Regions from separate parts of the Homo sapiens genome. Here region 2 is linked to region 1. The links come from fine-mapping of genetic effects on gene expression. A gene starts in region 1. The other region holds a variant in brackets. All regions are shown on one strand. Distances are between the middles of the regions. Region 1 holds the start of LINC01828 (long intergenic non-protein coding RNA 1828). Region 2 has its middle 47 kb from the start of LINC01828.

The links.
Region 2: its variant is fine-mapped to the expression of LINC01828 in pancreas (GTEx, PIP 0.98).

Annotation. Positions count from the first base shown.
Region 1 is chr2:67,084,715-67,087,634 of GRCh38, forward strand. It overlaps LINC01828 (long intergenic non-protein coding RNA 1828), which reads left to right and starts at 1,732. Exons shown (of 5, transcript NR_110564.1): 1 at 1,732-1,841.
Region 2 is chr2:67,038,308-67,041,227 of GRCh38, forward strand. No RefSeq gene overlaps it. Among named protein-coding and RNA genes, the nearest start is that of LINC01828, 47 kb to the right of the region's middle. The variant T/C (reference allele first, on the strand shown) is at 1,044.

The sequences.
Region 1 (2,920 bases):
CTTTGTGCACACTTCTCTCTCTCTCTCTGTGTGTGTGTGTGTGTGTGTGTGTGTGTGTGTGTGTACAGGAGACCATTGCATTCATATGAATAGCAAGATCTTTCATGCTCCAGCTGTTGAATCACATCATTCTCTGCTTCTATGGTCTTCAAGAGTTGCAACCTGGCCACCATTGATTAGCTCAGGCTATAAAAAGATTCTCTTCAGTGATTGTACTGTTGTGCCTATGTGGTGTGCTTTTTAGGTACAGTAGACAGACAGTTAAATGGATGTGGCCTGCCTCCTTGAGATTCGTGCACTAGAACTAGCACCAACATTGCAGTCAGACCTTCTAAAAATCTACAAGCAACTGCACACCTTAGAACCCTGCCCTTACCACTCTAAGGAAGAAGCTTGAACACACTGTGCCGTAACTGTAGCACTCTCAGGCATATAGCCCACTGGGGGAAATGTTGATGACTCCGATCATTTCAGTTCTTCTCCAAGGGTTCCTGGGATCTCTCCCAAGCACTCTCAAAGACCTCTTCAGAATTCCCTTAGCTGCTTCCTGGGGCTTTCCTCTCCTCTCTTCTCATTACTCCTGACCTCCGCCACTGCCTGATGCTAGTGGCTGCAGCTACATTCCCATTTTTCTCTCATGACCTCAGCCATGCTGGTATAATCTCACCGGGTCTGCTCCCACAGCTGCTGCGTGAAGGTGAGGAGAGAATTCTCTTCCCACTGGCTTTATTCTTTATTGTTAAAGCACAAATGAGAGAGCCATGTGCTTTCAGACTCTTCCAGCACTCCTTTAATTGTTTCTATCTTTCAGCTTTTTGTGCTTTCCTCCTCTTCTTGGGGTTAATCACAAATGCTGAAGAGGTGCATTGGGACAGAATTCAAGGGTCAAGGCCAGGGTTACAGCTGTGGCCATTATCAGCCCTCTTATTTGAGCCTCCCACTAGGGTCCAATGGCCTCCACCTTCCCACCAGACAGGGTGTCCAGGGAGTGCTTATACGGTTTGCAGGACTCTTCCCTGGGAGTAGCCATAAGCTCAAAGAGCCTTTTCAAAAAGTTCTTTGTCCTCTGACATGCTCAGTTTTCAATGATCTTATAGTTTAAGCTGATGTTCTTGCATTCTTTCAATGTAAATACTCCTTACAGATGTTCCATGTTATTGTTGAGGGTTCACTGTGATTAAGAGACAGTCAGCCCTGCATAAAGTTACAGTACAAATTAATTATTTATGTTGGTAAATAATAAATGTTTATTCACATTAACTTTAAAAAATGGGGTATTGTCGTAACTTTAAAGTGTTTACAAAGACCAACTGTCTAAAATATCAAAAAAAAAAGAATAAAGTCAACGAGCAGCCTTTTAAGTTCTTAGGAGACTCTCCATAATCCTCTTAAAAACTTAAACAGGTACTCAAGACCCACAGCCATTTGGTGCTGGGTTCTTCTGCCTCTTGAATTATCTCAGCAAGATGAGCTCTTGCTCACCTTGGCTGAACTGTGTTCACCCAAAATTAATATGTTGAAGCTTTAACCCTTAATGTAACTGTATTTGGAGGTAGGACCTTTAAGAGGTAGTTAAGGTTAAATGCAGCCATGAGGGTGGGATCCCGAGCCAATAGAATTAGTCTCTTATAAGAAACACCAGAGGAGACTTCCTCTCCCCCCCCCTCCCCTCCCCTCCCCTCTTCCCATCTCCCTCTCCTTCTCTCTCTGCTCTGAGAGCCACAGAGGAAAGGCCATGTGAGGTCTCAGCAAGAAGGCCATAGTCTACAAACCAGAAAGGCAGCCCTTACCAGAGACCAACCCTGCCAGACCTTGATCATGGACTCCTAGCCTCCAGAACTGTGAGAAAATTAATTTCTGTTGTTTAAGTCTATGGTATTTCATTTTGGTAGCTCGAGGAGATGAATACAAGCCCATCAGTATGTATCTAGTGTCTGCTTCAAACAGGCTAAACAAATCTACATTTCTTCCTTTGAAGGAAGAGAAGCACAAAATCACATTCCAAGCTATCTTCATAAAAAGCAGCTGAAGAAAGGTAGCATGGGTGAGGTGGGGTATAAAAGACATTTAATGGGCCGGGTGCGGTGGTTCATGCCTGTAATTGCAGCACTTTGGGAGGCCGAGGCGGGTGGATCACGAGGTCAGGAGATTGAGACCTTCCTGGCTAACACGGTGAAATCCCGTCTGTACTGAAAATACAAAAGATTAGCTGGGCCCGGTGGCAGGCGCCTGTAGTCCCAGCTACTCGGGAGGCTGAGGCAGGAGAATGGCATGAACCCTGGAGGCGGAGCTTGCCGTGAGCCGAGATGGCGCCACTGCACTCCAGCCTGGGGACAGAGCGAGACTCCGTCTCAAAAAAAAAAAAAAAAAAAATACATTTAATGTAAAGCCCTAATCAGAGGCAACGTGTAAAAGCAGAGAAAGCCAGATATCTTGGAGTAGGGAGAAAAAAAGGTAATTTATCAAGCCCCATAAATGTTCATTTTAGAGCCAAATGCAAGTCTTTTTTGTCTGAGAACTATTTCTTGTTTACAGAATGAAGTCTGCCCTATCTTGCAGTTCATTTATAGCTACAGATTTGGGAACTGTAGGAGAATTTTCAAGGCAGGCTTTTTCTACTTTTCTTGCAAGTCTTTCCACCCTAGTTTAAAAGAACACAGAAGTCTTTCAGGCCTTTACCCATGTAAGAACAGAAGAATCTCTTTGGTAAAGAATTGGGTAATTGTCTCTGTTATATCTCCGGTGTTTCTTATAAGAGACTAATTCTATTGGCTCAGGATCCCACCCTCATGGCTGCATTTAACCTTAATTACCCCTTAAAGGTCCTCCCTCCAAATACAGTTACATTAAGGTCCTTTGCCATCATGTTTCATGCCTGGATTCTTCAGTCTTTGTAGGACAGTCCCTTCCCTGTGTGGAA
Region 2 (2,920 bases), 46 kb before region 1:
TGGGCAAGCTGAAGTTCACCTCAGTCTTTTTGGTGTCTCCTGCCCTTCTGGTAGGTCTTCTTTCCATCCAGAGGCCAGGCCCGCCAGTTGCTGTTGGGCACACAGAACAGTCCAGGCCAGTCCTTCAGGCTCCTGCCTGTTTCTGCACCCTTTACCGCCCTCTCATTCCCCTCCACCTCATTTCAACCTCAGGGGCCTTCTTTCAGCTCCTGGAAGGAATGGTGCTGTCTCACCATCAGGGCCTCATATGCTTTCTGCCCAGTATTCCCCTGCAGCGTTCCTTCTCATTTTTCAGATCACTGCCTTAGAATGGTCTGCTCTAAATTGGAGAAGCCATCCCTGTTTTTTATCCTTTCTAAATTTGTTTTTCATTGATACATAATATTTGTACAATTCATGGGGTACATGTGATATTTTGTTACACGCATAGAATGTGTGATGATCAAGTCAGGATATTTACGATATCCATTACCTCGAGTGTTTATCGTTTCTATGTGTTGGGATAATTTCAAGTCCTGTCATTGTCTTCCACAGCACTTTCCACAATCAGTGATGAGATACTCATGCTTTCACTTTCTTCTTTTTCCTCACCGTGTTGCTCAACCATGGCATGGCTCTTTCACACACCCCTGAATATACAAGGCCTTGCACAGTGTCTGGCATATAGAAGCTTAATTTACACTTGTTGAATGAATGAATGAATGAATACCAATCAATTGTGCTTCCCAATTTGGCTTTCCAAGTTTGACAACTGGGATGAAATATCCAGAAAGAATTTGTCCTTATTTTCTTTCTCTGTCACTACCTAATGTGGTTTATACAATATATAATTTTGTTTCCTTCCTTCTCTAACCCTCAAAGTGGAAATTCCCACTATTGTGGGAATTTCAACAGCTGTACGTATGAGGAGGAAGGTCACATTTTGGCAGGCATTAATTTACACCACACGGCAAATACTGTCGGACATGGTGGAAGAATTCCTGGCCTTGCTTCCAGTAGACCTGATTTTGAATATTGCCTTATATACACATTAGAGTAAATCA[T/C]TGCACCTCTATGAACTTCACTTTCCTTATCATTGCAATAAATACAAAATGAGCTATCATTTAAGGAAATCTTTTGCAAATGATCAAGAAGACATAATTATTTCATCATTTTTATTCCACTGATCATAAGGTTCTCCTGCATTAGGCGGTGGTCTGGGGTTCCCTGTATACAATCTGGGGTCATGAAATTCACCTCCTTTCCTACCCTCCTTTGCCACCTGGAGTAATCTTCTCAACTTGTGCCCTCTGTGAGGACTCTCCCCTGTTTTCATCCACTGGCACTGTGCTTTTCCTTTGGCCCTGGCCATGTGATTACTTGTAGGAGGATGCTTCCAAGGCCTCTGAGAGTATCAGTAAAAGTGCTAACCCTGTCACCCTCCACTGTTCTTGTTTCTTGGGTTGTATTCATTTTATTAGCAAAATACACAGGCCTAGTGAAATGTAATAGACTTCTACCTCCAAAGATAATTAGAAGCCCATTTATTTGCCAATTCAATGAAAAGGCAACCACAAAAGGAAACCAGCTTTTATCAGCACATGCTCACAGCTCAGATCCCTGTGGTGTTGTGCTGCTCTGGCACTTGTGAAAAAAATAAATCCTGGGAAAACTAGGTTGCATTACGCTTCCTGTTAAACACAGAAAAGAAACAGCTGATGTCTGAATTTGCTAATTTCTGCTGATTCAGTTAGAGGGCAATGCACTCAGCTAACGAGGGATCTATCCAGGTATGTGAATTAAGGCTTGAAAAGAAAGTGTAGGTTGTAATCAGTGCATCCAGCACTGAGTTGGAATCATTATTTAGTGAGCATTTTCCAAAGAAATTAGAAAAGATTTCCAAGCTTAACAGAGCTTTCTGGATTCTTCCTTCTCATGGACATAATATAACAAAAATACAATCCCCTGCCCCTCCTTCAATCCTGGGATTTTAAGCAATGCTCAAGTGACCTTGTTTTCATGTTCTGTGGAAATAAGGTAGATACTGTTATCTCACCTGTATTAATACAGAACTCTGTATAACAAAGAAGTTGTAATTTATCAAAGGTCACACAGTGAGTCATTGCTGTAATCACAAAGCAAATGTTCAGGTTCTCATCTCCTTGGCAGCAAATGTTTTGTTCTCTAGGTTAGACTATCTTCTCTAAACTCTCATCATATGCCACTGCCTTCCCCTGCTGGTCTATCTCCAAGAAAGATACACACACACACACACACACACACACACACACACACACACACACGCTTTACCTATTCATCCCATCCCTCCCCTATCCTCCCAACTATCCACCCACTAGTCATCATCCATCCCATCTAGGATTGTCAGTTTTAAGAAAATCAAGACACCCAGTGAAATTTCAATTCAGATAAACAACAAATAATACTTTAGTATAAGTCCCATGCAATACTTAGGACACATTTTTTCTGAAATATCATTCACCATTTATTTTACATTCAAATTTCACTGGATGCCTGTATTTTATCTGGCAAACCTAATCCGATCACAAATGTCTACATCTTTTCCATTTATCTCCTAATTCCATGACTCTTTCAACTGCTTTTCTCCTTTAACTCCTATTATTTCAGATTTCAGCTAAACAAACTACAACCTATTTTCCCAGTGTTTCCAAACCTGTCCCGAGGCAGAGATGATTGTAAAGAGCCCCTCAGGAGCACTTATTTGTGGTTTCTAGGCTGAAGGCTGGCTGTGCAACTTTGGGTAAGTATTGTAATATCTCTAAAGGTCACTTTCCTTGTCTGTAAAATGAGGGTTTCAACAGTTACTATCTCATAGTCCTGTGGTGAGGACTAAATGACAATGCACAGTCCCTAGCACATAGTATGAGCTCATTAAAGTGGCATTAAATGTCAGCTAGTGTGG